Homo sapiens: one gene and its partners. The protein of the gene in region 3 purifies or fractionates together with the protein of the main gene of each other region. This does not show direct contact. Each region holds a gene or a part of one and is shown on either strand. Other genes may lie near its edges.

Region 1 (4,212 bases), on a different chromosome or scaffold from region 3:
TTCAAAATTATGTTCACTGATGAGATTTGAAGTCTATTACATCATGAATGTGATGGAAATTGTACACCTTTCATCAGAGACAATAAATAATATAGCTTTTAACAGCTTTATTTTTTTTAATTTATAATAGAGATAGGGTCTTGCTACGTTGCCCAGGCTTTTATCAAAACCCTAGGCTCCAGCAATTCTCCCTCCTTGGCTCCCAAAGTGCTGGGATTAAAGGCATGAGCCACCACACCAGGCCAGATTTTAACAGCTTTCTACAAATACAGATTTTTCTTTCATTTGACCAAATCCTTATCTAAGGAAGATACAGGGCTTAAATTCTGAAATAAAAACTATTTCTACTTGAATTGCGAAGATAAATATATTAACTCCAGGGAAAAATAAGCTGGTTCTAACTGGCATTTAGAACTAATTTAAAATCATTAACAATATCAGTAAATAAAATAATTCAATAAAAGCAATGATTTTAATAACAAAATCAGTAAATAATATAATGCTCAATTGTTTTTTTCTAGTAGTAGGATTAATGGTTTCCACTGTTGTCAAAAACTCACATGTATTTGGAAGAGGACCAGGTACAGTCACATCTTGGTATCTGAGGGGGACTCGATCCAGGACCCCATGGATACCAAAATCTGCAGATATCCCAGTTCCTTATGTATAATGGCATAGTACAGTCGGTCCTCTGTATCCATGGGTCCCACACAGGAGGATTCAACCAATCTTGCATCAAATATATTCGGAAAAAAAAATGGATGGTTGTAATGAACATGTACCTACTTTTCTTTCTTGTCATTATACCCTAAACAATACAGTATAACTATGTACATAACATTTATATCATATTAGGTTGGTGTAAAAGTAATTGTGTTTTTGCTATTACTTTTAATGGCAAAAGCTGTAATTACTTTTGCACCAACCTAATATTAAGTATTATAATTAATCTAGAGAAATAATTCAAAGTATACGGGAGAATGTGTGCAGGTTATATGTAAATACTACACCATCTTATATAAGTGACCTGTGCATCTATGGATTTTGGTATATTGGGGTCCTGGAATCAATCCCCCACTGATACCTGTATTTGCATATAACCTGCACACATTCTCCCATATATGTTATATAATCTCTAGATTACTTATTAATATAATACCTAATACAATGTAAAAGCTATGTAAATACTTATACTGTATTTATTCGTATTATTTGTATTGTTTTATTTTTTATTGGGTTTTCTTTCCAAATATTTTCTATCAACTGCTGGTTGAATCCAAGGATGCAGAATACACAGATAAGGGCTGACTATAATATGATAGATAAACAGCCTGTGACCACACAACAAAATATTAGCTTCATTTACCCCATGTTTCAGTCTAATACACCAAAATAAACCAACCACAAAAACAAACTGAAGTAGTAAATGTTTAAAATATATGTAATGTTTTGGTGTTTGTTTTTTGATACAGAGTCACACTCTGTCGCCCAGGCTGGAGTGCAGTGGCTCGGCTCACTGCAACCTCTGCCTCCCAAGTTCAAGCAATTCTCCTGCCTCAGCCTCCTGAGTAGCTGGGATTACAGGCATGCACCACTACTCCCAGCTAATTTTTGTATTTTTAGTAGACACGGGCTTTCGCCATGTTGGCCAGGCTGGTCTCGAACTCCTGACCTCAGGTGATCCGCCCACTTTGGCCTCCCAAAGTGCTGGGATTACAGATGTGAGCCACCGCGCCCAGCCTTAAAATACCTGTAATGTTTTAAAGTCGACTCTGGTTTTCCTAGCTGCCACAATGCTTACAATAACAGTATCTGGAATATTAGCCCATCCTAAAAGAGAAGTCTATAATAGATCTAATGTGATAATTATTAATAATTAACAATTACAATTTGTTAAGTGCCCACTATGGGCAAAATGCTATACACTACACAAAATGCTTTTCATTTAATTCTCACCATCACCCTGATGTGGAGGATAGCATAAGCTCCATTTTATGGATGACGAAACTGAATCTAAAAGAAGTTTAATAAACTGCTCAATTAGTAAATTAACGATAAAGTCAAGATTCAAAATCATGGTCACACAATTATAATGAATTTTGTCCATTCTGTCATGCTGCCTCTGGACATAAATGATGCTCTTTCAATTTCATAACATGGCAGTCACAAATATATTTCTGTCATCAGCAGGCTATTCTATGGTTCTGTGAGATACTAGTTTGGAGGAAAAAAAAGTTTTATCTTGATTAAAGAATACTGGGAGCTAGGCTGGGCGCAGTGGCTCACGCCTGTAATCCCAACACTTTGGGAGGCCAAGGCAGGTGGATTACTTGAGGTCAGGAGTTTGAGATCAGCCTGGCCAATATGGCGGAACCCTGTTTCTACTAAAAATACAAAAATTAGCCGGGCGTGGTGGCACACGCCTGTAATCCCAGCTACTCGGAAGGCAGGATAATCGCTTGAACCTGATAGGCGGAGGTTGCAGTGAGCCGAGATCGTGCCACAGCACTCCAGCCTGGAAGACAGAGCGAGACCCCATCTTAAAAAAAAAAACAAAACAGAATACTGGGAGTTAAAACTTCTTATAACAAAGTCGCTTATATTAAAAGAAATTAAGTAAATAAACCAAACGCAGTGACTCACGCCTGTAATCCCAGCACTTTGGGAGGCCGAGGCAGGAGGATCACTTGAGGCCAGGAGTTCAAGACTAGCCTGAGCAACACGGTGAAATCCCGTCTCTACTAAAAATACAAAAAAGTTAGCTGGGCATGCTAGTTGGCACCTGTAATCCCAGCTACTTGAGAGGCTGAGGCAGGAGAATTGCTTGAACCCAGGAGGCGGAGGTTGCAGTAAGCCAAGATTGCACCATTGCACTCTATCCTGGGCGACAGAGCAGGACTCTGTCTCAAAAAAAAAAAAAAAAAAAAACAAAAAACAAATCTACACTTCGGGAGGCTGAGGCAGGCAGATCACGAGGTCAGGAGTTCAATACCAGCCTGGCCAATATGGTGAAACCCCATCTCTACTAAAAATACAAAAAACTAGCCAGGTGTGGTGGCGTGTGCCTGTAGTCCCAGCTATTCGGGAGGCTAAAGCAGGAGAATTACTTGAACCCACAAGGCGGAGGTTGCAGTGAGCCAAGATTGAGCCACTGCACTCCAGCCTGGGCAACAGAGGAGACACCGTCTAAAAAAAAAAAAAAAAAACCTACAACAAAAATTAGCCAGGCATAGTGGCATGCCCCTGTAGTCCCAGCTACTCGGTAGCCTGACGCAGGACAATTGCTTGAACCTGGGAGGTGGAGATTTCAGTGAGCCGAGATTGTGCCACTGCACTCCAGCCTGGGCATCTTTAAATAAAATAAATTAAGTAAATAAACCTTCACAAATTATCTACATGATAAAATCAAAATGTACCTGAGATGTACATATGCACAAGTGACTAGACGAAAGTATCACTATTACTTTTCCAAAGTCAAAGGTAACCAAGGCCAATCTTAAATAAAGTTACAAATTTAGCTGATTTCTGTGTCCCTGGTTGCCCCAGCTTTGCCTTTATTCAGAGCTAAGCAGTATTCTACAGTTTTTCCCTCTTCTTCCCTAATTAAACTAGAAATGTTCCAAATTAACTATAATTCACCTTAATATAATCAAGTTACCATAATTAAGATTTTGCTGTCCTACTCAGGTAATTGAAGACTTTGATCTTGGTTAAAAGAACGTAAGATAGCCTGAGCACGGTAGCTCATGCCTGTAATCCCAACACTTTGGGAGGACTGCCTGAGTTTAGGAGTTTAACAAGACCCTGTCTCTACCCCCCAAAAAAAAAACTGGCCAGGCGTGGTGGCTCACGCCTGGAATCCCAGAACTTTGGGAGGCCAGGGTGGATGGATCACCTGAGACCAGGAGTTCAAGACCAGCCTGACCAAAATGGTGAAACCTCATCTCTACTAAAAATGCAAAAATTAGCGGGGTGTGGTAGTGCACACCTGTAATCCCAGCTACTAGGGAGGATGAGGCAGGAGAATCACCTGAACCCAGGAAGTGGAGGTTGCGGTGAGCTAAAATTGTGCCATTGTACTCCAGCCTGGGCAACGAGAACGAAACTCTGTCTCAAAAACAAAACAAAACAAAACAAAACTGGGCAGCCTGTAGTCCCAGCAACTGGAGAGGCTGAGGCAGAAGGATCACCTGAGCCCAGAATGTTGAGGCT
Region 2 (4,212 bases), on a different chromosome or scaffold from region 3:
GATGAGAGCACAGAATCCTGTCATGTCTTCTCAGTCACAAAACAGATTTTGGCTATAAATCTCTATTAATGAAATAGCCACTGAAGGTTTCTGAGTTAGTGGAGTGATGTGATGAGCCTTAGATTTTAAAGAACTACTTTGGCTGCTAACCTGAGAACAAATGGTAGCAATATAACAGTAATGGCAGATGATTTAGGAGGTGTCTTGGTTTTCCACTGCTGCTATAACAAATTACCACAAACTTAGTGGCTTAAAACAACACAAATTTACGGCCGGGTGCAGTGGCTCACACCTGTAATCCCAGCACTTTGGGAGGCTGAGGCGGGTGGATCACGAGGTCAGGAGTGCAAGACCTGCCTGGCCAAGATGGTGAAACCCCATCTCTACTAAAAATACAAAAATTAGCCGGGCATGGTGGTGGGCGCCTGTGATCCCAACTACTCGGGAGGCTGAGGCAGAGAACTGCTTGAACCCAGGAGGCGGAGGCTGCAGTGAGCCAAGATTGTGCCACTGCACTCCAGCCTGGGTGACAGAGCAAGACTCTGTCTCAAAACAAAAAACAGCTCTCCCTCTCCCCCTCCCCCTCCCCCTCTCCCTCTCCACGGTCTCCCTCTGATGCCGAGCCAAGGCTGGACTGTACTGCTGCCATCTCGACTCACTGCAACCTCCCTGCCTGATTCTCCTGCTTCAGCCTGCCAAGTGCCTGGGATTGCAGGCGCGCGCCGCCACGCCTGACTGGTTTTCGTATTTTTTGGTGGAGACGGGGTTTCACCGTGTTGGCCGGGCTGGTCTCCAGTTCCTGACCATGAGTGATCTGCCAGCCTCGGCCTCCCGAGGTGCCAGGATTGCAGACGGAGTGTCGCTCACTCAGTGCTCAATGTTGCCCAGGCTGGAGTGCAGTGGCGTGATCTCGGCTCGCTACAACCTCCACCTCCCAGCCGCCTGCCTTGACCTCCCAAAAGTGCTGAGATTGCAGCCTCTGCCCAGCCGCCACCCCGTCTAGGAAGTGAGGAGTGTCTTTGCCTGGCCGCCCATCGTCTGGGATGTGAGGAACTCCTCTGCCCGGCCGCCCAGTCTGGGAAGTGAGGAGCGCCTCTTCCCGGCCGTCATCCCGTCTAGGAAGTGAGGAGCGTCTCTGCCCGGCTGCCCATCGTCTGGGATGTGGGGAGCGCCTCTGCCCCGCCGCCCCGTCTGAGATGTGAAGAGCGCCTCTGCCCGGCCGCGACGCCGTCTGGGAACTGAGGAGTGTCTCTGCCCCGCCGCCATCCCGTCTGGGAGGTGAGGAGCCTCTCTGACCAGCCGCCCTCTCTGAGAAGTGAGGAGCCCCTCCGCCCAGCAGCCGCCCTGTCTGGGAAGTGAGGAGCCCCTCTGCCCAGCCGCCACCCCGTCTGGGAGGTGTACCCAATAGCTCATTGAGAACGGGCCATGATGACGATGGCAGTTTTGTCGAATAGAAGTGGGGGAAATGTGGGGAAAGGAAGGAGAGATCGGATTGTTACTGTGTCTGTGTAGAAAGAGGTGGACATAGGAGACTCCATTTTGTTCTGTAGTAAGAGAAATTCTTCTGCCTTGGAATGCTGTTTATCTATGACCTTACCCCCAACCCCATGCTCTCTGAAACATGTGCTGTGTCCACTAAGGGTTAAATGGATTAAGGGCGGTGCAAGATGTGCTTTGTTAAACAGATGCTTGAAGGCAGCATACTCGTTAAGAGTCATCACCACTCCCTAATCTCAAGTACCCAGGGACACAAACACTGCGGAAGGCGGCAGGGCCCTCTGCCTAGGAAAACCAGAGACCTTTGTTCACATGTTTATCCGCTGACCTTCCCTCCACTATTGTCCTATGACCCTGCCAAATCCCCCTCTCCGAAGAACACCCAAGAATGATTAATAAATACTAACAAAAAAAAAAAAAGTTATAATCTTACGGTTCTGTAAATTAGAAGACCAAAGTCAGTCTCTCCGGGCTAAAATCAAGGTGTGCACAAGGCTGGTTCCTTCTAGAAGCTCTGAGGGAAGACTGTCTTTTCCAGCCTCTACAGGCCACCTGCATTCCTTGGCTCGTGGACGCACACCCCTTCCTAGCATCACTCCAATCTCTTCCTTCCATCATCACATCTCCTACTACCTACCCTGATCCTCCTGCCTCTCTAAGGACCCTTGTGATTATATTGGGCCCACCTAGATAATCCAGAATAATCTACCCATCCTTAACCATATCTGCAACGTCTCTTTTACCTCAAAAGGTAACACATTCACAGGTTCCAGGAATTAAGACATGGACATCTTGTGGCAGACAGCAGGGGAGAGGATTATTCAGCCTATAATAGGAGGCTACTCTAGCAATCCAGACAAGAGACAGTGGTGGTGACTTGGAACAAAGTGGTAGCAGTAATCCTGGAGAGAAGTAGTGGAATACTGGATGTATTTTAAAGGCTGATGGGATTCAAGATAGAGTGGGTTTGGGAAATGAAAGAACAAAAATTGACTCAAAATATTTGGTAGGAGTAACTGGAAGGAAGAAAGGGTGTTTATAAAGCCTTTCCCTGTGAGTCTATCAGTCTCAGATCAAGAAGTGTTAAGGATCTTACAAGTCCCCAGAAATGCACTAACTTGAGAGAGAAGAATAAGCTTTAACCTAGTCTACAAGCCAAGATATCTCAACAGGAAGCCATCAGCAGACCAGAGATTTAAATTCCACAAACATCTGAGTAAACATCTACTACATTCTAGTTACTGTGCGTAGCATAGAACACAAGCACACAGTGTGCACCGTATAATAAGGGATGTTTGAAAAGAAAGATGAATGTTGATTGAAGCATTAAGGAAATGCTTTGCTGAAAAAGTGAGATAAGAGGTTGGACTTGGGAGTAAAGAATGGCATCCGGCTGAGCGCGGTGGCTCACGCCTGTAATCCCAACACTTTGGGAGGCCAAGGTGGGAGGATCACTTGAGCCCAGGAGTTCAAGATCAGCTTGGGCAACATGGCAACACCCTGTCTCTACAAAAATTTAAAAAATTAGCCAAGCATGATGGCACATGCCTATAGTCCCAGCTGAGGCTGGAAGATGACTTGAGACCAGGAGGTCAAAGCTGCAGTGAGCTGTGATTGCACCACCGTACTCCAGCCTGGGTGACGGAGCAAGACTTGGTCTCAAAAAAAAAAAAAAAAAAAAAATTAGTTAAGAATGGCATCCAACCAGAACAACTACATAAATGTATGTGCAGAAGTGGAAATTAAGCTAGCTAGTGCTGATGTCAGGGGCTGCAGGATTTCCACTCAAGTACCTCCAACAGCAGAGAATGAATGAATGCACTGTTTTCGAGTATTGCCTACCACAAGCTTGAGCCCTCTTTCGAGTGTCATGGTTTACTACTGTTACATAGGTCTTTCTCCACCTTGTGTATACTTTGATCTTGGCTCACCACAACCTCCGCTTCCTGGGTTCAAGCGATTCTACTGCCTCAGCCTCCCAAGTAGCTGGCATTAGCTGCGCCTCCACACCCAGCTAATTTTTGTATTTTTAGCAAGGCGGAGTTTCACCATGTTGGCCAGGCTGGTCTCGAACTCCTGACCTCAAGATCTATCTGCCTTGGCCTCCCAAAGTGCTGGGATTACAGGCGTGTGCCACCGCGCCCGGCCCGTAAATTATTTTTTAAAGTCAAAAACAGTATAACCTATGTATCCCCTCACTGGTTCTTTTTCCCAGTTCTGTAATACCTTGAATTCACTTCAAAAGTGATTTCTTAGGCCAGGTGCGGTGGCTCATGCCTGTAATCGCAGCACTTTAGGAGGCCAAGGCGGGCAGATCAATTAAGGCCAGGAGTTTGAGACCAGCCTAGCCAACATGGTAAAACCCCATCTCTACTAAAAATAAAAAAATTATCTGGGTATGGTGGCACATGCCTGTAATCCCAGCTACTCAGGAGGCTGAGGCAGGAGAATCGCTTGGACTCAGGAGGCAGAGGTTGCAGTGAGCCGAGATTGCACCACTGCACTCCAGCCTGGGTGACAGAGTGAAACTCATCTCAAAAAAAAAAAAGTAATTTCTTAATTTCTCAAAGGGCAATTCTCTACATCTCAAGCAAGCCACAGATAAAAAAAAAAACAAGGCTGGGAACAGGAGCTCACAACCGTAATCCCAACACTTTGGGAGGCCCAGGTGAGTGGAACACTCGAGCCCAGGAATTCAAGACCAGCCTGGGCAAC
Region 3 (4,212 bases):
CATGGCCTTTGCCTCTGTCAACAGACCAATGTATCAAATCAAATGTGACAGCAACAGGGCCTCCAGTACTATCCAGCAGGTATGCTGACTTTATAGATGGTGCTAAGTCCCAGAGAGTGGGTCACCTGGTAAGAGGGAGGTGCACTCTTCAGAGATAAGTGTGATGAGACATATCTTGTTCTCTTATGAGACTCACTCAGGGAAGTACCCAGCACTGAAGAGTGCCACGCAGGGCTGCAGCTTTCTGCAGATGTCCATTCCTCTGTATTCAGACATACAAAAACCAATTTGGTGAAAGAGTTAATGCGAGATATGAGTACAAAAGAGAAAAAATAGTGGAGGGTTCAAAGACAGGTGACTGGGTATGAGGAACATGGTTTCCTCAAAGAATAAAACTCAGTAGAAGAAGTTTGTGAGCAATGAGGATAATGCTTATGGGCAAGCTGAGTTAGGAGCACCGCTGTGAACCTATGGCTTCTAAACCAAACAATATGAACACAGGGTTTAACAAAGGATTTCCCTTTGTACTTCTGGCTGGGGTAAGTGATCAAATATATCAAAATACATCAGATACTATGGTGTAGAGAGACGATTGTGGACTTTGAAATCTGAAATATTTGGGTTTGGATTTTGGTTTTATAATTTATTCCCTCTGTATCTTTGGACAAGTTAGTAAGTTGTAACTTCTTGAATTCTCAGAGCCCTTGATGGAAAAATGAGGAAATATATATATATATATGAATATATATACATATATATATGAATATATATACATATATATATGAATATATATACATATATATATGAATATATATACATATATATATATGAATATATATACATATATATAAAGTAGCACTACACGTGACTTTAATAAATGTTCACTCTCACATTCTAATTGTATGTAAGAGCAAGTCTAGAAAATATAGGATTTGTGTTATTTGTGTATCCTCAAAAGTACTTCATTTTTAGTAGCCCTTTTCTGATTATCATCAATATCTCCCCATACTGGCTCATTCCCTCTGAGTCCAGGCTTCTCAAACTGGCCAGATAATGTGGCAAATTGCATTCATGAAAGTCTCTCTCGGTCCGGCATATCTTCTCCTCTCCATTGTCCTTGTCAATCTTGAGGCTAGTCTTGTCTTTACAAAGTCCAGAAAAGTGAAATTATCTTATTTGTATTTTTTATTTCCTCCATTTTTCTATCTCTTTTCCTTTCTAATACAACCCATTCTATCCAAGCATCACTAGATTTATTTTTTCTGAAGCACCTTTCTGAACTCATTACTACCACATGGAGATGACTTAAATGATTCATGTGCTTATGGAATAAAACACAACCTTTTTATCCTGGAGCTAAATACCTGCCAAACTTAAAACTTTCCTGTGGTTTTAATGTTATTAACTATTGTTTTCCTTCTACTCTGAATTCTGTTTCTTCTCGTCTACCTATGCTTATCCCACTCTTTCCTACATTTGGGTCCTTAAGCTATTCCCTTTACATGAATATATTTTAGTGTTCATTTCCACTCTCCTAAAATCTGTTTATCTTTCAAGAGCCATACTAGTGTCTCCTATTCCTCCATAAAGTTCATTTTGACTCAGGTTCCAAATGGGCACTCCATTATTTTGCTTCCATTTGTCTTTGAGTTTCATTTTCTTTCCATAAATTTTATATCGAAGAATTTCAACCTATTCATGGTTCCCCATAAACCATGTTGATTCTTCCCTCCTGCCTATACTTACTGTATTCTCTTCTTAGAATGCTAATTCCTGGCCCTGACTACCCTCTTTGCTTGATTAACTACTAATTATTCTTTCAAAATGAGCTGAGGTATCATCTCACGCATTGGTCTGAATTTGATACTACTCTGAAGGCTGCCATAGTATTTTATACCTTTTCTACTGAGGCAAAACCAACCCATTTTATGATTGTCTATTAGCTCCTGTATGTAGACTTTGTGACTTTCTCATCTTTATATCACTAATGCTTGTCACAATTACTAGCACTAAATCTGGGCTTAATAAAAGTCTGAAGAATAAATAATACAAATGAAATTGTATTATTTGTATTAAGACACAATCCTCATTGTAATACTTATGATTCAGTATCAACATCGTTATATTTGTAATTCAGGAATGAATTGAATTGAGTGGAATACAAAGCACATCTTCTCTAAATATAATTTTTTAAATGACAAAAAGTTATGATTTAGGCTTTTGAGATGCCAGGCCCTAAAATGAATCCTGAGCAGTCCTCTACATCACTGTGGGTCTTTAGGATGCATGGAATTGGTGACATGTGCTGTTCTCCACAGACCTGGAATAGCTGATACCTGGTACTCGATCTCCTACCTTTACTACAGTGCAGTGGGCTGCTTAGGATGCATTGTTGCTGGAGTAATCATCAGCCTCATAACAGGTTGGTTATAATTCCTCCCTTTGGGACTAAAGAAGATATGGGCTCATGCATGCATTGGTGGACTGGCTGTCTGTCTTATTGCTTTGAATTCACGTTTCCCACAAAAACCCTTCTTCCCACAGAGATGTCTACTCTCTCAACGCTGACATACAAAGGCACCCTTCATTATTATATACCTGACTATTAATATATAAAACATATATTCACGGGAGGCTGAGGCAGGAGAATCGCTTGAACCCAGAAGGTGGAGGTTGCAGTGAGCTGAGATGGTGCCATTGCACTCCAGCTTGGGCAACAGAGCAAGGCTCCGTCTCAAAAAACCAAAAAAAACCCCAACCAAACAAAAAAACATATATTCAAACATTTCCCATATATTATTTAAAAAAAGATGCTTTGACACATGCCCCCCAGAGGCCTGAGTATGAAAAACCCTCTGTAATATAACAATCAGTAAATAAGGTTAAATATTCAGAGTGGTTCTTTTCCCTTCATCCCAGTAAGAGACAAGATTTTTGTCATCACCATCTTACTATCTCATGAAGTCAGCCTTTGCTAACTTACTAGAAAAGCAAAACACTGTTGTTTTTGCCTATGTTGTCCTTTGGAGGCTGCTTCTCTAGGGTCGTGGAGTTCTCTGCAGTGAGCAGCTTCACTGTAAGCCATTTTTAGCAAAGTGTCTACCATCCATACTTGCCCTTTTGATGTATTAATGTCCTTTTTGTTTCAAAGCCCATGAGGGGTTGGTAGTGGTGAGAGTGTGGGAGATAATGGGGTGGAATAAGTTCACTGTACTCTTGTCCCTCCACCTCCTTGGAGTATGTATTTTAGCTAAAAAATTTTAAGGTATTCTATTTTTCCATGACTATTATATACCAATGAACAATGGCCAACATTCTGACTCAACACAAAACCTGAATGGCAACATTTCTGGTGACTGTGTACTAGAGATGTTATATTGAAGCTCCAATGCCCTATTGTTCTGTGCATGATGTCACTAGCCATTCACTGAAATTTAAGAAGATCTTGGCTATGATAAAGAATAGACTATAAATCTTGTAACCCCAGTCTTTCACATAATAACAACTCTCTCAATGTCTTTATGTAAATGGTTTCAGGCAAAAGATTGTTTATTCATTTTGTTTAGATTTTGCCTTAGTACCCTGACATCTGTAACTCCTTCCTTGATGCTAGTGGGATATACCTAGACATTTCAGTTTAGTGATCGGTCACCACTAAGAAGACAACCAAGATTTCAGCTGCCTGAACATTTCCTTCTAAATCAGGAAATGTGTACACATGAAATCCAGTAGTTTGCCAGTCCATATTTTCCATGTGTGCACCAGAATTAGCATGCTCTTATGTTGATACAGCAGCACTTATATTAAATTTGATTGAAAATTCTTACACATTTTCAGCATGAATAACTCTTCCAGTATTAATCCCTTTGTTTTCTTTTTCTCCAAATAAGCCAGGTCTTAGTCAAATGCCCTTCAGGCCAAAAGCGAACACTCTAACAAAGTCTAATTATGCCTTCAAACATTTGGAAAAATTTTTGAACATGACCACCAGATGTTCTTGCCTCCTGGTCCCTGTCTTCCAAATGAGGCCTTAGGGCTAGCCTGATAACCTCAGGTCTGCTCACTAAGAGGCTTTAACAAATCTTCTGTAATACCCACTGAATCTTTTAAAAAGTCTTACAATGTTTAAATGTAGAATAGGGTCAGTAAGGAAGGACAGAGGCCTTTTGTGGGCCTGTTCTCCTTGTGTCATATTTTATCTTGGTCTTGTTT
Region 4 (3,761 bases), on a different chromosome or scaffold from region 3:
AAAAAAAAAAAAAAAAAAGAACTTCGTATATGTTATCTATTCCAATCCTTACAACTCTTTGAGATGGGTACAATTCTTATTCCTATTTTACAAACAAGAAAATTGAGGTACAGAAAGTCACATGTGAATAAGGGGCAGAATGTTTCTGAATCTAGACAGCCTCTGTGCCCTTCACTGCTGCACTATACCCTCAAAACACTGGGGATGGGCTTGAGGTTATTTAAAATGTATGAAATTCCTTCAAACACTTTTACTTAGCCAGGTGTGGTGGCATGCACCTGTGATTCCAGCTACTCAAGAGGCTGAGATAGGAGGATCTCTTGAGCCCAGGAGTTAGAGCTACAGTGAAATATAATTGTGCCACTGCACTCCAGTCTGGGCAGGCAACAGAGCAACATCCTCTTAAAAAAAAAAAAAAAAGTCTTACTGATCCTGAGCAAAACCCTCAAACAGAAGACAGACGTCTGGAGCTGCTTTCAAGATAGCACAGCACACTTCACTTGAGGAAGTAGCAACAGCTTTATTAATTTCGCTTTTTTATTAATTTCTTGTTGAGACAGAGTGTCGCTCTGTTCCCCAGGCTGGAGTACAATGGTGTGATCTTGGCTCACTGCAACCTCCCGTTCTGTGGGGGTTCAAGTAATTCCTGTGCCTCAGCCACCCAAGTAGCTGGGATTATAGGTATGTACCACCACACCTGGCTAATTTTTGTACTTTTAGTAGAGATGGGGTTTCACCATGTTGGCCAGGCTGGTCTTGAACTCCCGGCCTCAAGTGATCTGCCTGCCTTGGCCTCCCAAAATGTTGGGATTCTAGGTGTGAGCCACCAGGCCCAGCTCTAATTTAGTATTTTTTAAAAACTGTGGTAAAATACAGAAAAATATAAAATTTACCATCTCAGTCATTTTTAAATATACAGTTCAGCGGCATTACGTATCTTTATAATGTTGTGCAATTATCACCACCATTGACCCCTGTAACTACATCTTGCAAAACTGAAACTCTATACCCTAAACAGTAACTTCCCATTTCTGCCTCCCCAAGTCTGACAACCACCATCTTATTTTCTGCCTGTATAATTTTGATTATTTTAAGTAATTCAAATAAGTAGAATCTTACAGTATCTATCCTTTTAACTTTATTTTATTCATTTTTTTTTTTTTAGACACAGGATCTTGCTCTGTTGCCCAGGTTAGAGTGCAGTAGTGCATTCATAGCTCACTGCAGCCTTAACGCCTCAGCTCAAGTGATCCTCCTACCTTAGTCTCCCAAGTAGCTGGGACTACAGGCATATGTCACCTCACCTGGCTAATTTTTAAATTTTTTGTAGAGACAGGATCTCACTATGTTGCCCAGGCTGGTCTCCAAACTCCTGGCCTTTGACAAGCCTACCACCTTTGCCTCACAAAGCATTAGGACGTATTTGTCCTTTTGTGACTGACATTTCATTTAGCATGAAGTCCTAGAGGTTCATCCATGTTGTAGATATACCAGAATCGACTTAGTATTTTGACCACTCACTTTGTTAAAAACACTCACTTGACCATGAGCCAAGAAGCTCCTTTTAACCATTCTTAATGTCTTAGAAACAGATGCTCTGACAACACTCAGTAGATCAGAGTTAAGCTTGGACTCTGGATCGGCACAGATCTGAGTTTAAATCTTGGTTTTGCCTCGTACTATAACCTCGGAAGTTTTAGTTAACTTTTCAGAACCTCGGTTTCCATATCTGTAACAGAAAAAAAAAATACTGCTTCTCTCATAGTGTTATAAAAAAAATTTACTGAGATGATGGACTAAGGCATTTACGAGCATTATCTGACACCTGGGAGAGGGTGAGGCTCATATAAGCGCACAATAAATTACAAGTATTATTATTGTCCCCTTCTGTGGTCAACCACCTGTTGTTTCTGCCATTACATCATCTTCTGGAGAAAGCTCCCTAGTTTTCCTTGAGAACAACTTTTCCTCCATTGCATATAATCCCTGTGAAACTACCTATTACTGGCCAAGGAATGGTAGCAGGACCTCAGATAGCCCAACAGATACTTGCTCCTCAGAATCTGAACCTTGAGCAGAGTCATCCAAAACTGAGGGGAAAACACGGAGAAATTAACAACAACAAAACGGCTGTAGTTCATGTGTCGCCATCAAAGAACTCAGACAAGATTGGCCATTAGCTCCTGTAGCTAGTTCCTGTCTTTTCCAAAACCTGTTTTTTTTTTGGCTTTTTGGTAGATGCTGTGGCTCTCTTATGGCCTCCAATAAACATAAGTGAGGCAGAGTTGGTTTCTATTGTTTGCAACCAACGAACTTAATGGATTCTGTATTAGAAAGAACTGGTATATTTCTTTAAGCAAAGACTAGGACTCTATGGGGCTCAACAAACTCTGTAATCGCCTTTCCACTCCCCTGGACAAAATAAATATATTGTCTACTGCTGAAACGCAAATTATCCCCAAACCAAGTAGCTTTAAACAATAAACGTTTACTATCTCACAGTTCATGTGTGTCTGACGTTCCGGAGCAGCTTCTCTGAGTGGTTCTGGCTTAGGGTCTCCCATAGAGGTCACAAGCGAGATCAGCTAGGATTGCGGTCATGTGAATGCTTGGCTGGAATTGAAGGACCAGCTTTCAAGATTGCACACTCCCATGGCTATTGGTGGGAGGCCTCGATCCCTTGTCATGTGGAGCACTCCATAAGGCTGCTTGAGTATTTTCATGACCTGGAAGCTGGCTTCCCCCAAAGTAAGCGATCAAAGAAAACAAGACAGAAGCCACGATGTATTTTATGACTTACCCTCAGAAGTCAAACTCTCATTTCTTCAATAGTGTAGTGGTTACACAAGTCAGGCCTATTCAATGTGGGAAGGAACCACACAAGGGTGTGAATAGAAGAAGGCAGGGATGGTTGGGGGCCAACTTAGAGGCTGGCTGCCATGCAGGGGAAGCCTAGAAGCCTGGTAGGGGTTCATGTACCCTGCCACCATCCTCCTTTCACTTGCTATTCCTCTTCACTGAAGACCCCAAGAAGCATATCTCATTTCAGAAACCAGCAGAGATGATGACTTATAAGTCATGGAGGAAGGACGAGGTGGATTTGAAGAGAAAGCCACAAAATAGGAAGGGTGAAGGTCTCCAGTCCAAGGACCAGGTCTGGAAGACTGGAAAAACGGAACAGATGACGTTTAGGGAAGGGAGACACAGGCTGCCCCAAGGTTCAAGAATAAAGGGTAGCATAAGACAAGAGTGCTTACCCTTGGCAGTGGAGTCACACTTCTCCTTTTACAACCCCAAAGAAAGTCTGGTGTCCAGTTCAGCCCTGCTTGTGTCACGTATCCTTTGCTGCTCTGAGTCCTTGGGGCCTGAGAACTGGGACCCATGAGTCCTGCTGCCCAGCTGCTACGGGCTGAATTCTGTCCCCCTAAATTCTTACGTTGAGAAACCCCTGGAACCTCAGAATGAGACTGTACTTGGAGATTGAGCATTTAAAGAGGTGATTAACTTAAATGAGGCTGGTTAAAGTTAAAATCCAGTCCAACTGGTGTTCTTAGAAGAGGAACGTTGGGCACATAATGAAACTTAGAGATGTGTGTGCATGGAGGGAAGACCGCACAAGGACACAGTGAGAAGACAGCTGTCTGCAAGCCAACAAAAGAGGCCTCTAGGAAAAACCAGGCCTGCTGACACCTTGATCTTGAACTTCTAGCCTCCAAATGTGAGAAAATAAATCTCTGTTGTTTAAACCACCTGGTTCTGTG
Region 5 (4,212 bases), on a different chromosome or scaffold from region 3:
GCTCATGCCTATAATCCCAACACTTTGGGAGGCCAAGGCTTGAGCCCAGGAGTATGGGACCAGCCTGGGCAACATAGTGAGATGCTGTCTCTACAAAAATTACAGAATAATTAGCCTGGTGTGGTGGTGCGTGCCTGTGGTCCCAGCTACTTGGGAGGCTGAGGTGGGAGGATTGCTTGAGCCAAGAAGTTTGAGGTTATAGTGAGCTATAATGGCTACTGCATTCCAGCCTGAGTGACAGAGTGAGACCCTATCTTAAAAAAGGTTAACTTAAATGAGAAGCGTTCTTAGTTTGATAAAATAGTCACTTTTTTTTTTTTTTCCTGAGACAGAGTCTCACTCTATCACCCAGGTTGGAGTATAGTGATGTGATCTCAGCTCACTGCAACCTTTGTCTCCTGGATTCAAGCAATTCTTGTGCCTCAGCCTCCCAAGTAGCTGGGATTTCAGGTGTGTGCCACCACACCCAGCTAATTTTTGTATTTCTAGTAGAGACGGGGTTTCACCATGTTGGCCAGGCTGGTCTTGAACTCCTGAGCTCAAGCAATCCTCCTGCCTCAGCCTCCCAAAGTGCTGGGACTACAGGCATAAGCCACCGTGCCTGGCCAATAGTCACATTTTTTTCTATTCATCTTTTACATTTGAGTAGATCTACCTTAGACATGTGATAGCATTTTGGTGTCTTTAAAAATACTCATTTATTCCTCATTTCTTTGGTAATATTGTCTCTGTAATTCCCTGACATTTGACAAGAAGTCTTAGAAGGGGTGATTTCCTATGGATATGAAAATAGCTTTGCGTTACAGCAAACTAAAAATTAGTCACACTGAAGAAACTAACAATATATGTTTGTGTCCTTGTTTTAGGTGGATTATGTATTTACAGATAAGACTGGAACACTCACTGAAAACAGCATGGAATTCATTGAATGCTGCATAGATGGCCACAAATATAAAGGTGTAACTCAAGAGGTTGATGGATTATCTCAAACTGATGGAACTTTAACATATTTTGACAAAGTAGATAAGGTGCATTTGCATTATTGTTTTATATAAGAAACCAATCTGTGTATGCATGTTAACATTCCATAGTAGAAAATAATTTTTAGGTGGACACATGACATAGACTTTTGTGTTTTTGTTTTTTTTTTTTGAGATGGAGTCTCACTCTGTTGCCCAGGCTGGAGTACGGTGGCATGATCTCAGCTCACTGCAACCTCCGCTTCCCAGGTTCAAGCGATTCTCCTGCCTCAGCCTCCCGAGTAGCTGGGATTACAGGCGCCTGCCACCATGCCTGGCTAATTTTTTTGTATTTTTAGTAGAAACGGAGTTTCACCATGTTGGTCAGGCTGGTCTCAAACTCCTGACCTCAGGTAATCCACCACCCTCCGTCCCCCAAAGTGCTGGGATTACAGGCATGAGCCACTGTGCCCAGTGACTTTAGAATAACTATTGTTGGATTCACCTTTCTTGTTTTACTGACACTTCTGAAATTTGTAAATGAGTAGAATTTACAAGTAAAGAGAATTGTGGGAAATGACATTTGGGTAAAAGCTTGCTTGTCTGTATGATCATAATTTTTTGTGCTTTGTCTTTTAAAATGTAAGCTCCTCCAAGAATGATGTCTGTTCAAATGATTAAAGTCTCAGGAGTGTCTAGGCATTAAATTAACCAGAGTCTCCCTACACTTGAGCTATTGCTAGATTGTGAATTAGATACTGAATGAAGTTTTTTAGGCCATGAAGAAGTCACTGCTTTGGCTTAGGTGGTGCCACAATAACCTTAATGAGTTAACACAGCCTATAGGGTATGCTAGCTGAGAACCAGGAACTCTTATTAGGTACTAGGAGAATATATAGCAGATTTGAGTGTTAAGAATTTATACGTATCTGCTACTAAGTTTGTTAGAAGTTACAACATTCTCTCACATTAATATATTTTCTCCGTTCACTGCCTAGTTACCGGGTGATCAAATTAAAAATAATAATCATTATTTTGTTGCTGTTCCACAGAATCGAGAAGAGCTGTTTCTACGTGCCTTGTGTTTATGTCATACTGTAGAAATCAAAACAAACGATGCTGTTGATGGAGCTACAGAATCAGCTGAATTAACCTATATCTCCTCTTCACCAGATGAAATAGCTTTGGTGAAAGGAGCTAAAAGGTAAAGTATACTTTCTTATACTTCTCCTAAGAAAGTGAAATCACAGGAGGACAGAAGTTATTTGTTTTTTTCCGTTTGCTTCAGTGACCTTAGCACATACATCTCCTATTATTTAATAAAAAACACAACTGCTTTAGCCAAAAATTTGTGGAAAATTCCCACACCTAACCAGTTAAGACTAAAAAGAAAATAGTTACAGGTAGGTATTACTTGCCTTACTATTTATGCATGCCAGCCAGAAGTCTGAATGTTCATACTATGTTTTGCAAATAACATAACAGTGGCCACTTTTTGTACAACACATGTTATTTCTGAGGTGCTCCCAGCAATTTTGACATCATTTGAGAACCGAAAGTCCAGTTTTACCCATGAGGTTCAAGATAATTAAGTGGCTCAAAGGTCACCCAGTGTGTTAGCCGTAGAATCAGAAACCCAAATTGTCTCTCCCTTGGTTACAATAATTGTGGCTGGGCATTGACTTTCTCTGTTATCAACTTATCCAGGAAAAGAAAGTACAGTTATATGTTGAGATCATATGAAAGAGAAGAAAAGCATAAACAAGCATGAGTTACCCCATTGAAAGTAATCATTCTAGACCAGGTGCGGTGGCTCACGCCTGTAATCCCAGCACTTTGGGAGGCCAAGGCGGGTGGATCACCTGAGGTCAGGAGTTCAAGACCAGCCTGGCCAACATGGTGAAACTCTGTCTCTACTAAAAATACAAAAATCAGCCGGGTGTGGTGACACACACCTGTAATCTCAGCTACTCAGGAGGTTGAGGCAGGAGAATCGCTTGAAACTGGGAGGTGAAGGTTGCAGTGAGCCGAGATCGCGCCACTGCACTCCAGCCTGGGCAACAGAGCGAGACTCTGTCTCAAAAAAAATAATAATAAAAAAATTAATCATTCTTTAGAGATACACAAGGTCTTTTTTATTGTTTTTGATAGGTACGGGTTCACATTTTTAGGAAATCGAAATGGATATATGAGAGTAGAGAACCAAAGAAAAGAAATAGAAGAGTAAGTAGCTCTGTGTTTGATGTTTGTCATTTCTTAACCCCATAGTCAAATTTAAGTGGATTCAGGCAGGGCAGCAAAGGAAATGATGCCACTAAAAATACAGGACCCTGCTCTCCCAGTTCAGAGTTTTATGTAAATATAGTTGGGGTAGAAGCCATGTTACATAGAATTGCAGAAACTGGAGTTTGAGGTGGAAATTCCAATCTGGTTCACATCTGGGTCCAGTAGCCAGAATGAGAGTTTGCCTGGAATGTTTCTCAAATTTAGATGCCATTTCAGGTCTCTAACACATGCTACAGGAAAAATCAGTGAATATATGTGAAACCTTCTGCTATCTAGTGTCCAAGCAATCACTCTGGGATTGCAAGCCCAGGCAATAAAGGCAGCTTTGCTGTAAACCAGAAGCCTTGTTTGGTTCGGAATGTTCAGGTGTGAGCCTCGGGGCAAGTACTCTGATGCTCCAGTGTCTTCACATTTCCTCTTTTGCCACAAAGACCCTAATGAACAAAGCCACCTTATCTTAATGGTGGATTTTAATTAGGCTCTGTGATTAATTTGAATTTCCTCATCTGAACTTGAAATATAATTATGTTATCTGACTTTCATTCTGGCCCCTAGGATCTCCTGAGACCCATCTCAGAAACCTGTAATATGTTTACAGGTACTTGGGTAATGCACCCTTTTGGAGAGAGATTCATAGAAGCCCAGAGGAAGGTTCTTGGTCTGACTGACAGGGACCCAGGGTCATTGTCAGAGTTTAGATTCTAGCCCATCTGCAACAGTGCCCACATCTGGCCAACAGCAAACCAGATGCCATGTTAGATGTCTTATACATATACTCCCGCAAGACTAATGACCCCCTCACTCCCACCAAAACAAGCTATGTAGTAAATACTTTTTTTAAAAAATACTAGTTGTTTATTTTCAAGGAAATATTTCCTCTCACTTTTTCTAATAACCAACTCTTATTTTAACTCTTCTGTGTCTCTCCATTGATTAGTTCAGCCATCCACACACACATTTGACCAGT
Region 6 (4,933 bases), about 41 Mb from region 3:
TTATAGAGCACTAGGAAAAGCAAGGGCTTTGGACCCAAGCCGATGGGGATTGCATCCGGCTGGATGACCTCAGGCAGGCACCGCACCTCTCTGTGCCTGTTTCCTCAATGGGGTGTGGCAATGGGAATGAGATGGGAGACAAGCCCGAGGTCACCCTCAGACACACAGTGGGGGCCTCTTTTAGCCAGAGACAAGGCTCCTGTGACCTCTGCTCTTCCCCCGCTTCGTCCTCCATCCATCTCTTTCTGGGAAAGGGAGGGTGCCATCGGTCAGCCAGGGCAGTGGATGCTCAAGGAAAGAATAAGGGAAGTAGCCGGTGCCCCAGAGCCGCTGGCCTAAGGGAACGGGGGTACATTCCACCTGTGGAACGGGATGGGGTGGGTCTGGAGAGGCCAGTCTGGGCTCCTTGTCACAGGCGCTGGCTAGAGAAAGAGAGAGGCCTGTGAATGGATCTCCAGGCCTTCGAGGGAGATGGTGGAGAAAAGAAGGCAAGGTGCAAGGGACTCACTGGCCATGGCCCCCTTTCAAATTGTAATAAGAAAGCTCAGCAGAATGCACAGGTGTTTACCCTGAAAAATGGGACTCCTGGGTCTTCCACTCGCTCCATAAACACTGCTATTTTCTGGATGGGCACGGTGGCTCACAACTGTAATCCCAGCACTCTGGGAGGCTAAGGCAGGAGGATTGCTTGAGCCCGGGAGTTCAAGAGCAGCCTGGCCAACATGGTGAAACCCTATCTCTACTAAAAATACAAAAAAAATAGCAGGGTATGGTAGCAGGCACCTGTAATCCCAGCGAATTGGGAGGCTGAGGCAGGAGAATTGCTTGAACACGGGAGGCAGAAGTTGCAGTGAGCCGAGATCGCGCCATTGCACTATAGGCTGGGAGACAGAGCGAGACTCCATCTCAAAACAAAACAAAAAACACACCAGCCTGGGCGACAGAGCAAGAGACCCCATCTCTACAAAAAGTAAAAGAAAAATTAGCCAGGCGTGGTGGTGTGTGTCTGTAGTCCCAGCTACTTGGGAGGCTGAGGCAGGAGGATCCCTTGAGCCTAGGAGGTCGAGCCTGTAGTGAGCCATGATCATGGCACTACATTCTAGCCCGGTAGTGACAGACCTTGCCTCAAAAAAAAAAAAAAAAACCACCCCAACACCTGCTGTTGTTTTCTTTACATTGTTAACCAAGAGCATGAAATTTAGGCCGGGCATGGTGTCTCACGCCTGTAATCCCAGCACTTTGGGAGGCCGAGGCGGGCGGATCACGAGGTCGGGAAATCGAGACCATCCTGGCTAACATGGTGAAACCCCGTCTCTACTAAACATACAAAAAATTAGCCGGGCGTGGTAGTATAAGCCTGTAGTCCCAGCTACTGGGGTGAATTTCTTGAACCTGGGAGGGCGGAGGTTGCAGTGGGCCGAGATCGCGCCACTGCACTCCAGCCTGGGTGACAAAAACTCCGTCTCAAAAAAAAAAAAAAAAAAAAAAAAAGAGCATTAACTTTGATAACTTAAAAAGAGTCACGTGAACATATCCACTGTCCGTGTAGATTCTACATTTATTTGTTGGGGGCGGTAATGGGGCCCCTTGGAGGTGTGCGTTCCGTCGGGGGCCGGGAAGGCGGGGCCTCACCCAATCCTGGAGACTCCTGCGGATGCCATTATGAGGAGCAAGAACGCGAAGGGGCCTCGGGTCCGCTGTAAGGCTGCACCCGCACCTGCGGCGCCTCTGCGGCGGCCGCCGTCGGCCCTGCCCCGCCCCGCCCCCTTCTTCCGGAGGAGCTGCGGTGGGGGCGCTCCACCGGGTCCTAGGAAAGGGGCTCTCTCTGGCCCCGTCCCCGGCGGCCCCGCTCCCGGCCCCCCGGCGCCGCTCAGCCTCCCGCCCAGCCCCTCCGCGCGTGACCTCGGCCCCGCCCCCGCGAGCCCCTGCCCCGCCCCCGCTCCGGGTCCCTCTGTCACTTCCTGAATCCTGCTTCCTGCTTCCCAGAGGCCGGGATCCGGAGCCGCCCGAAGCCGGTGCCGCAGCCCCCTGCGCCCCCGGTGCCCCCGGTGAGCGCGGCAGGGCCGGGGCTAGGGGCGCGGGCTGGGGGCTGGGCGGGGCTGCAGGGGCCGGGCTGAGGGGGCTGAGGGGGGATCGCGGGTCCCAGGAGCCTTTCGCCTCCCCTCTACCCCACTCAGTCCCACTCCCCTTGGCCGCCCAGCCTCTCCTCTCCTGGGCGGAGGTCCCTGGAAGTTGGGCTCCTGGTTCACCCTGGACCCCGATTCGAGGCCGCTCTGGGTTGCTTCGCGGCCCACAGCTGCGTCCCGACCCCGTCCCTTCCTGGGGGCCATGCCGGGGCTCCCTGGACATTCCCTGGGACTCAGAACTGGGCACTCACTCGGCCCCACAGTAGAGAGACTTTTCCTGCTTCCTCTCTCCTTCTTCCCCATTACCTAGCCTCCAAATCTCTGGGAGCAGGAAGGAGGCTGCTCCCGACTGGCTGGGACCTACAGTAGAGCTGAGAGCTCTCCAACCCCGGCACCTCCCACCTCCTGCCCCCGACACACACCAGAGCCAGGGAGGGGCCCTGCGTCCTGCAAAGCCCCTCAGGACTCAGCAGTGGTCAGGGCCGGAGCATTTACCTCTCAGATCACTGCCTGCGGGGTGACAGGCGGCCAGGCTCTGCACCTGTGACCCCATTCTGTAACTGGGTAAACCGAGACCCAGGAGGGTTACGGTGGCCTGGCCCCCGGTTGCATCCTCCCGGCTCACCTTCAGCAGCCTGGGGAGGGCTGGAGTTGTTGGGATGGGCCGGACTGACCCAGGCCTCTCTGTCCCGCAGACATGTCCTTCCGCAAAGTGGTCCGGCAGAGCAAATTCCGGCATGTGTTCGGGCAGCCGGTCAAGAACGACCAGTGCTATGAGGACATTCGCGTGTCCCGTGTTACCTGGGACAGCACCTTCTGCGCCGTCAACCCCAAGTTCCTGGCGGTGATTGTGGAGGCCAGTGGAGGGGGTGCCTTTCTGGTGCTCCCCCTAAGCAAGGTGGGTCCTGTCAGGGTTGGGGGAAGAGGAGGCACCTCGGCCACCCCTACTGGGCCTTTCTGCACACCTTGAATCCCTCATCTTGCCGTTTCTCACACTGCTGGGCAGGTGTTATAACCCAGATTTATCGCCCCAAGTGTTAGCACAGATGGAAAGTAGCCTGTTGCCATAGAGGCAGGGTTAGAGGCAGCAAACATTTCCTGCTCACCTGGCAAGTGGGGCACAGTCACATCTGGGCCACCTGTGAGCCGGGACGTGCATGTCATTCCCACTCCATGGAGGGGAAGACCAAGGCTTCGGGAGGGATGGAGCCCACTGACTGCCCCCTCGTGCCCACAGACGGGCCGCATTGACAAGGCCTACCCGACGGTGTGTGGGCACACGGGACCTGTCCTGGACATCGACTGGTGTCCTCACAACGACGAAGTCATAGCCAGCGGCTCGGAGGACTGCACGGTCATGGTGAGGCACAGGACTGGCTGGGCCAGGGTCGTGGGTGTGGCCGAAGGGGGCCAGCAATAGGACCAGCAGAGGACTGAGCTCGGTGGCCCTGTCCCTACCACAGGTGTGGCAGATCCCAGAGAACGGGCTGACCTCCCCGCTGACAGAGCCGGTGGTGGTACTGGAGGGGCACACCAAGCGAGTGGGCATCATCGCCTGGCACCCCACGGCCCGAAACGTGCTGCTCAGTGCAGGTCTGCACCGCCCCCCGTTTTGTGCTCCCCCCCCCCACGGACCCCTCCATACATCCCAGCAGCCCCTCCAGGGCCCACATGACAAATGGGAAAGCTGAGGCCCTCAGAGTTGGAGAGACCCGTCTGTCCCAGGGTGGTGGGCAGAGTGGGCCTCAGCCTGGTGAGCTAATGGCCTCCTGCCACCCACCCGGCCCGAGCTGACAACCCTCACCTGCCAGGCTGCGACAACGTGGTACTCATCTGGAATGTGGGCACAGCGGAGGAGCTGTACCGCCTGGACAGCCTGCACCCTGACCTCATCTACAATGTCAGCTGGAACCACAATGGCAGCCTGTTTTGCTCAGCATGCAAGGACAAGAGCGTGCGCATCATCGACCCCCGTCGGGGCACCCTGGTGGCAGTACGTGGCTCTGGAGGGCAAGGATGGCTGTGGATAGGCCCAGGACCTTGAGCAGGGCGCTGCACTGACCAGCCTGTCCCCCCGACAGGAGCGGGAGAAGGCTCATGAGGGGGCCCGGCCCATGCGGGCCATCTTCCTGGCAGATGGCAAGGTGTTCACCACAGGCTTCAGCCGAATGAGCGAGCGGCAGCTGGCGCTCTGGGACCCAGTGAGTGGCCAGCCTGAGGGGGCAAACTTGAGACTTGGGCCCCACCCTGGGCCAGGCAGGCAGGGTTCACCCTGGGGAGGCCTGTGGTTCCTAGCTTCTCTGCCTGGAACTTGAGGCTCTCAGGGCCTAGGACTCTGTCAGACTTTCCTCTCCTGCCCCCTGCTCGCCCGACTGCCCCACCACTCCCCCATGGCCTCCCACTGCCTCTGTGTCTTTGCCCATGTTGTTCATGCCAACGGAAGGGCCCTTCTCTCCCTTGCTTGCCTGTACCACCCACTGCCTGCACAGGGCTCCCCGCTCCTCCAGAAAGCCTCCTCCTCCAGCAAGCCTCCTGGCCCCAGCCCTCTCTGCTTCTGCATAGTGACCTCCAGGGCACCTTGAGCAGGGGCTGGTGCCGCTGGCACCCCAGCTCCCCACAGTGAGGTATGTTTCAGCACTTGCTTAGTGGCCTGGGCATAGTCTTAAGGCCTGGAGGAGGCTGGAAAAGAGGGACCCTGGGAATAAAGTGAAGCCAGGAGGGCCAGGTGGGGGTCGTCATGTGGGAAAAGGCATAGAGATGGCAGAGGGCCCACCTGCATTTAGGGGCAGTGCTGGCTGGCCTTAGTG
Region 7 (4,212 bases), on a different chromosome or scaffold from region 3:
ATGTGATTCTCCTACCTCAGCCTCTGGAGTAGCTGGGATCACAGGCGCCTGCCACCATGCCTGTCTACTTTTTTTGTATTTTTAGTAGAGATGGGGTTTTACCAGGTTGGCCAGGCTGGTCTCAAATTCCTGACCTCAGGTGATCTGCCTGCCTTGGCCTCCCAAAGTGTTGGGATTACAGGCGTGAGCCACCACGCCTGGCCAATACTCTTTTTTTTTTGAGATGGAGTCTCACTCTGTCTCCCAGGCTGGAGTGCAGTGGTGCAATTTTGGCTCACTGCAACCTCCACCTCCCGGGCTCAAGTGATTCTCCTGCCTCAGCCTCCCAAGTAGCTGGGACTACAGGTGTGCACCACCACACCTAGCTAATTTTTTGTATTTCAGTAGAGATGGGGTTTTACCATGTTGTCCAGGGTGGTCTTGAACTCCTGAGCTCAGGCAATCCCCCCGCCCCAGCATCCCAAAGTGCTGGGATTACAGGTGTGAGCCACTGCACCCGGCCCTCACGTGAATACTCTAAATTGGGAACCGTGAGTATACTTTCTTCTCCAGATGAGGAAACTGGGCACACAGAGGTTAGTGATGTGCCTGAATGCAGGAAGCTTGTAGGGGTGGGGCTGGGATGCCAGGGCATGGGAGGGAAGAGTTGGCCAGCTGTGGCAATACTCACGGAGTCCTTCAGTGCCAGAAAACAGTGGCAGATCCAGCGGCGGGTAGTCCCGTCACGACAGATATAGGAGAAAGCCTTGTCCAGGTTGCGGTCAGGAGCACAAAAGGAGACCTTTTCGATGGTCTGGTCGACCAGAAGATCCTAGGAGGGGCCGGGGAGGCCAGGAGAAGAGTGTGAACTCTCTTTCAAGTGTTCACTCAACATTCTCTCTGTGTCTGCTGAAATCCAGTCCTGAACAGGGTGGGGACCCAGCAGTCACTGAGACACCCTGTGCCTTGCCTGCAGAGGGCTCCCAGGTCAGCGGGAAGATCAGACCCATCACGAGATGGGCAGCCCAGAGTCATAGCCAGGATGTGATGAAGGAGGCCCAGGCAGAGGGGTCAGGGCCAGGACCATGGAGGCACAGGCAGAGGGGTCAGGGCCAGCATGGCAGAAGCCAGCTTGGGGTCAGTCAGGCAAGGCTTCCTGGAGCAGGTACTAACTAAGAAAAAAAGTCAAGGAACAGTATTTTGGGCTGAGGGAACTGCCTTGCAAAGGTGGTGATCTTGTTCTGTTATTAACCCAACTCTCAGCATGTCCTGGGCACCTCCTAGGGCAGTCTCTGGGCTGGGGGCAGCAGATTCAAGGTGAGCAAACAGATACCTAGATTGTGGCCTCATAGTGCTTCCTTCTGACTGGGCAGGGTGACAATAAACACTTAATGGCTAACATTCATTGATCTGAGCAGTTACGATGTACTAGACCCCATTTAAATATATATATATATTTTTTTCCCAGAAGGAGTCTTGCTCTGTCACCCAGGCTAGAGTGCAGTGGCATGATCTTGGCTTACTGAAACCTCTGCCTCCTGGGTTCAAGTGATTCTCCTACCTAAGCCTCCCAAGTAGCTGGGATTACAGGCACGCACCACCACGTCTGGCTAATTTTTGTATTTTTAGTAGAGGTGGGGTTTCACCATCTTGGCCAGGCTAGTCTCGAACTCGTGACCTCAGGTGATCCAACTGCCCTGGCCTCCCAAAGTGCTGGGATTACAGGCGTGAGCCACCGTGCCCAGCCCACATTTAAATTTTTTTAAAAATTATTTTGTATAGATGGAGCCTTGCTATGTTTCACAGGCTGATCTTGAACTCCTGGCTTCAAGGGGCCCTCCCAGCCAGGCACCATTTCAAATAACTTGCATATGCTTTCTCACTTAATGGTAGGGTCTATTATAATCCCTGTTTTTCTGCGATGGAGTTTAGCTCTTGTTGCCCAGGCTGGAGTGCAATGGCATGATCTCCGCTCACCGCAACCTCCAAGTCTCGGGTTCAAGAGATTCTCCTGCCTCAGCCTCCCAAGTAGCTAGGATTACAGGTACACACCACCATGTCCAGCTAATTTTTGTATTTTTAGTGAGATGAGGTTTCACCATATTGCCAGGCTGGTCTCGAACTCCTGACCTCAGGTAATCTACCCTCCTTGGCCTCCCAAAGTACTGGGATTACAGGCGTGAGCCACCACTCCCGGCCTATAATCTGCATTTTTCAGATGACACAACTGAGACTCAGAGAGGTTAAATCTCATGCCCAGGGTCCCTAAGCTGGGATCGGAGCTGAGGCAGCTGCTCCAGTCTCTCTCACCCACAGCCTATGCCAGTTCCCAAATAATCACAGCATTTATTCCTGAGTTATGACGACAGAGGGAGCACACGGCATCGTCTAGAAGGTCCCTGAGGGAGGGATGTGCAGAGGAGGCGGGAAGGTGTCCTCCGCCCTGATTCCAGCAGGGTGAGCAGACAGGCCCCCTGGCGTCCACCCCCACAGGCCTCCTACCTTGGTTTTGTCGTCCACCACTCGGAGCCCATCGGCTGACACCCACAGGACAGACTTCACGGACTTTCGGCCCATCTGGAGGGAGGCAAGGGGACAAAGGAGCCGGGTCAGGGTGCCTCTCCCTGTCTGACCTTGCCCCCTCCCTCATGGCAGCCCCCTCACTCACCGCCTTCAGCTTCTTCACCGCATCTTCACACACGTGCATTCCCCGGGACTCCTCTACCTCCACGTGACCCAGGTACTTGGGTTGGAGGGAATGGGGGGGGGGACATGAAACAGCACAGTAATCACTCATTCTCAGTGTCCACTGAGCATCTGCCATGCAGTAGACAATATTTTAAGCACATGATGTGTATGCAATCATTTATTCTGCATCTCAACTCTACAAGGTGGAGACCCCATTCCTGGTCTAGACATGCAGATGGGGAAACTGAAGCACAGCACGTAGTAGTGATTCCAGTCTAGCTATACCCCTGGGCCCTAACCCGGCACCGTGGTCCTCCCGAGAGCTAGTATTTGCATCTCTGTGCGTGAGGACTGGCCACAGGCCATGCAAAGCTGCTTTGCCTACCCTAAAGCAGCTAGAAAGAGCCTGGGCCAGTCCCCACAATGACTGAAGGGAGTTAGGGTACCTGAGCCCCAGCTCCCTCATCTGCAGGTGGGATGACTGTTGCCTCGAGTTTCCCAGGGGAAAGCTCAGTTGCACACTGCTGCAGTTTTAATAACACACCCTTTACTGGCTGCCTTACTTTCCTCACTCCCAACACCATTTCCTGCACCTCCCAAATGAAGCCGTCACATTCAAAGTCTGCTTCCAGGGAAGGGAACGTAAGGTGGTGGAGGGGCTGTGACCATGGTCAGTCATCACCCAGCCAGGAAGGGGCTGAGCTCCACAGTCCACGCCGTGAATCCTGCTCTCCCCCTCACAGGAATGTAAAAGCGTAGGGTATGGCTAAACCAGAACGTCCTTATCGGTAGAGCGCTTTGCAAATGCTACACCACATGACGGCTTCCAGGTAATAGTTTGCTGGTACAAAAAAATGTGTTCTGGTTTTTTGTTTGTTTTCAAGATTGGGTATCACTCTGTTGCCTAGGCTGGAGTGCAATGGCACAATTAAGGCTCACTGCAGCCTCGACCTTCCTGGACTCGAGTGAGCCTCCCACCTCAGCCTTGTGAGTAGCTGGGACTACAGGTGCGTGCCACTGTGCCTATTTTTTGTAGAGACAGGGTCTCCCTGTGTTTGCCCAGGCTGGTCTTGAACTCCTTGACTCAAGCAATCCTCCCACCACAGCCTCCCAGTGTGCTGGAATTACAGGTGTTAGCCACCACTACGCTTCAAGTTTTTTTTTTTTTTTTTTTGAAACAGAGTCTGCTCTGTCGCCCAGGCTGGAGTGCAATGGCGCTATCTCGGCTCACTGCAATCTCCGCCTCCCGGGTTCAAGCGATTCTCCTGTCTCAGCCTCCCCAGTAGCTGGGACTACAGGCGCCCGCCACCACGCGAGGCTAATTTGTTGTATTTCTAGTAGAGCCGGGGTTTCACCGTGATAGCCAGGACTGCCGGCCTCACGCTTTTTAACACCAACTTCAAACGACTTGGGCTGGTGTCCCAGCCAGGCCGCGCACCCGCACAGCACAGCACAGCGGCCCCCGTCCCCCTCGCCCCGCCGCACCCTGCCGCGCCCACTCACCCTGACCGGGAAGCTGCACGTGCCCTTCCGCACCGCGTCCTC

Evidence for each region.
Region 1: the proteins of SLC5A12 (region 3) and NUMB purify together in Homo sapiens (affinity purification with mass spectrometry; one large-scale study listed by BioGRID and IntAct). This does not show direct contact.
Region 2: the proteins of SLC5A12 (region 3) and PCYOX1 purify together in Homo sapiens (affinity purification with mass spectrometry; one large-scale study listed by BioGRID and IntAct). This does not show direct contact.
Region 4: the proteins of SLC5A12 (region 3) and EARS2 purify together in Homo sapiens (affinity purification with mass spectrometry; one large-scale study listed by BioGRID and IntAct). This does not show direct contact.
Region 5: the proteins of SLC5A12 (region 3) and ATP11C purify together in Homo sapiens (affinity purification with mass spectrometry; one large-scale study listed by BioGRID and IntAct). This does not show direct contact.
Region 6: the proteins of SLC5A12 (region 3) and CORO1B purify together in Homo sapiens (affinity purification with mass spectrometry; one large-scale study listed by BioGRID and IntAct). This does not show direct contact.
Region 7: the proteins of SLC5A12 (region 3) and NUMBL purify together in Homo sapiens (affinity purification with mass spectrometry; one large-scale study listed by BioGRID and IntAct). This does not show direct contact.

The regions. Positions count from the first base shown.
Region 1 is NC_000014.9:73,448,247-73,452,458, forward strand, and holds part of NUMB (protein numb homolog), read right to left. Parts: intron 1-4,212. UniProt on the Homo sapiens protein: Regulates clathrin-mediated receptor endocytosis. Plays a role in the process of neurogenesis.
Region 2 is NC_000002.12:70,264,167-70,268,378, reverse strand, and holds part of PCYOX1 (prenylcysteine oxidase 1 precursor), read right to left. Parts: intron 1-4,212. UniProt on the Homo sapiens protein: Prenylcysteine oxidase that cleaves the thioether bond of prenyl-L-cysteines, such as farnesylcysteine and geranylgeranylcysteine. Only active against free prenylcysteines and not prenylcysteine residues within prenylated proteins or peptides.
Region 3 is NC_000011.10:26,676,922-26,681,133, reverse strand, and holds part of SLC5A12 (sodium-coupled monocarboxylate transporter 2), read left to right. Parts: coding exon 1-79; intron 80-2,318; coding exon 2,319-2,422; intron 2,423-4,212. UniProt on the Homo sapiens protein: Acts as an electroneutral and low-affinity sodium (Na(+))-dependent sodium-coupled solute transporter.
Region 4 is NC_000016.10:23,520,254-23,524,014, forward strand, and holds the end of EARS2 (nondiscriminating glutamyl-tRNA synthetase EARS2, mitochondrial), read right to left. Parts: 3' UTR 1,548-3,761; coding exon of another isoform or gene 1,540-1,547; 3' UTR 501-1,539; downstream 1-500. UniProt on the Homo sapiens protein: Non-discriminating glutamyl-tRNA synthetase that catalyzes aminoacylation of both mitochondrial tRNA(Glu) and tRNA(Gln) and participates in RNA aminoacylation for mitochondrial protein translation.
Region 5 is NC_000023.11:139,786,143-139,790,354, reverse strand, and holds part of ATP11C (phospholipid-transporting ATPase IG), read left to right. Parts: intron 1-866; coding exon 867-1,028; intron 1,029-2,011; coding exon 2,012-2,163; intron 2,164-3,110; coding exon 3,111-3,182; intron 3,183-4,212. UniProt on the Homo sapiens protein: Catalytic component of a P4-ATPase flippase complex which catalyzes the hydrolysis of ATP coupled to the transport of aminophospholipids, phosphatidylserines (PS) and phosphatidylethanolamines (PE), from the outer to the inner leaflet of the plasma membrane.
Region 6 is NC_000011.10:67,440,519-67,445,451, reverse strand, and holds the start of CORO1B (coronin-1B), read left to right. Parts: upstream 1-1,975; 5' UTR 1,976-2,048; intron 2,049-2,821; 5' UTR 2,822-2,823; coding exon 2,824-3,024; intron 3,025-3,363; coding exon 3,364-3,486; intron 3,487-3,589; coding exon 3,590-3,719; intron 3,720-3,937; coding exon 3,938-4,119; intron 4,120-4,207; coding exon 4,208-4,327; intron 4,328-4,933. UniProt on the Homo sapiens protein: Regulates leading edge dynamics and cell motility in fibroblasts. May be involved in cytokinesis and signal transduction.
Region 7 is NC_000019.10:40,680,247-40,684,458, forward strand, and holds part of NUMBL (numb-like protein), read right to left. Parts: coding exon 4,171-4,212; intron 2,723-4,170; coding exon 2,648-2,722; intron 2,557-2,647; coding exon 2,482-2,556; intron 812-2,481; coding exon 671-811; intron 1-670. UniProt on the Homo sapiens protein: Plays a role in the process of neurogenesis. Required throughout embryonic neurogenesis to maintain neural progenitor cells, also called radial glial cells (RGCs), by allowing their daughter cells to choose progenitor over neuronal cell fate.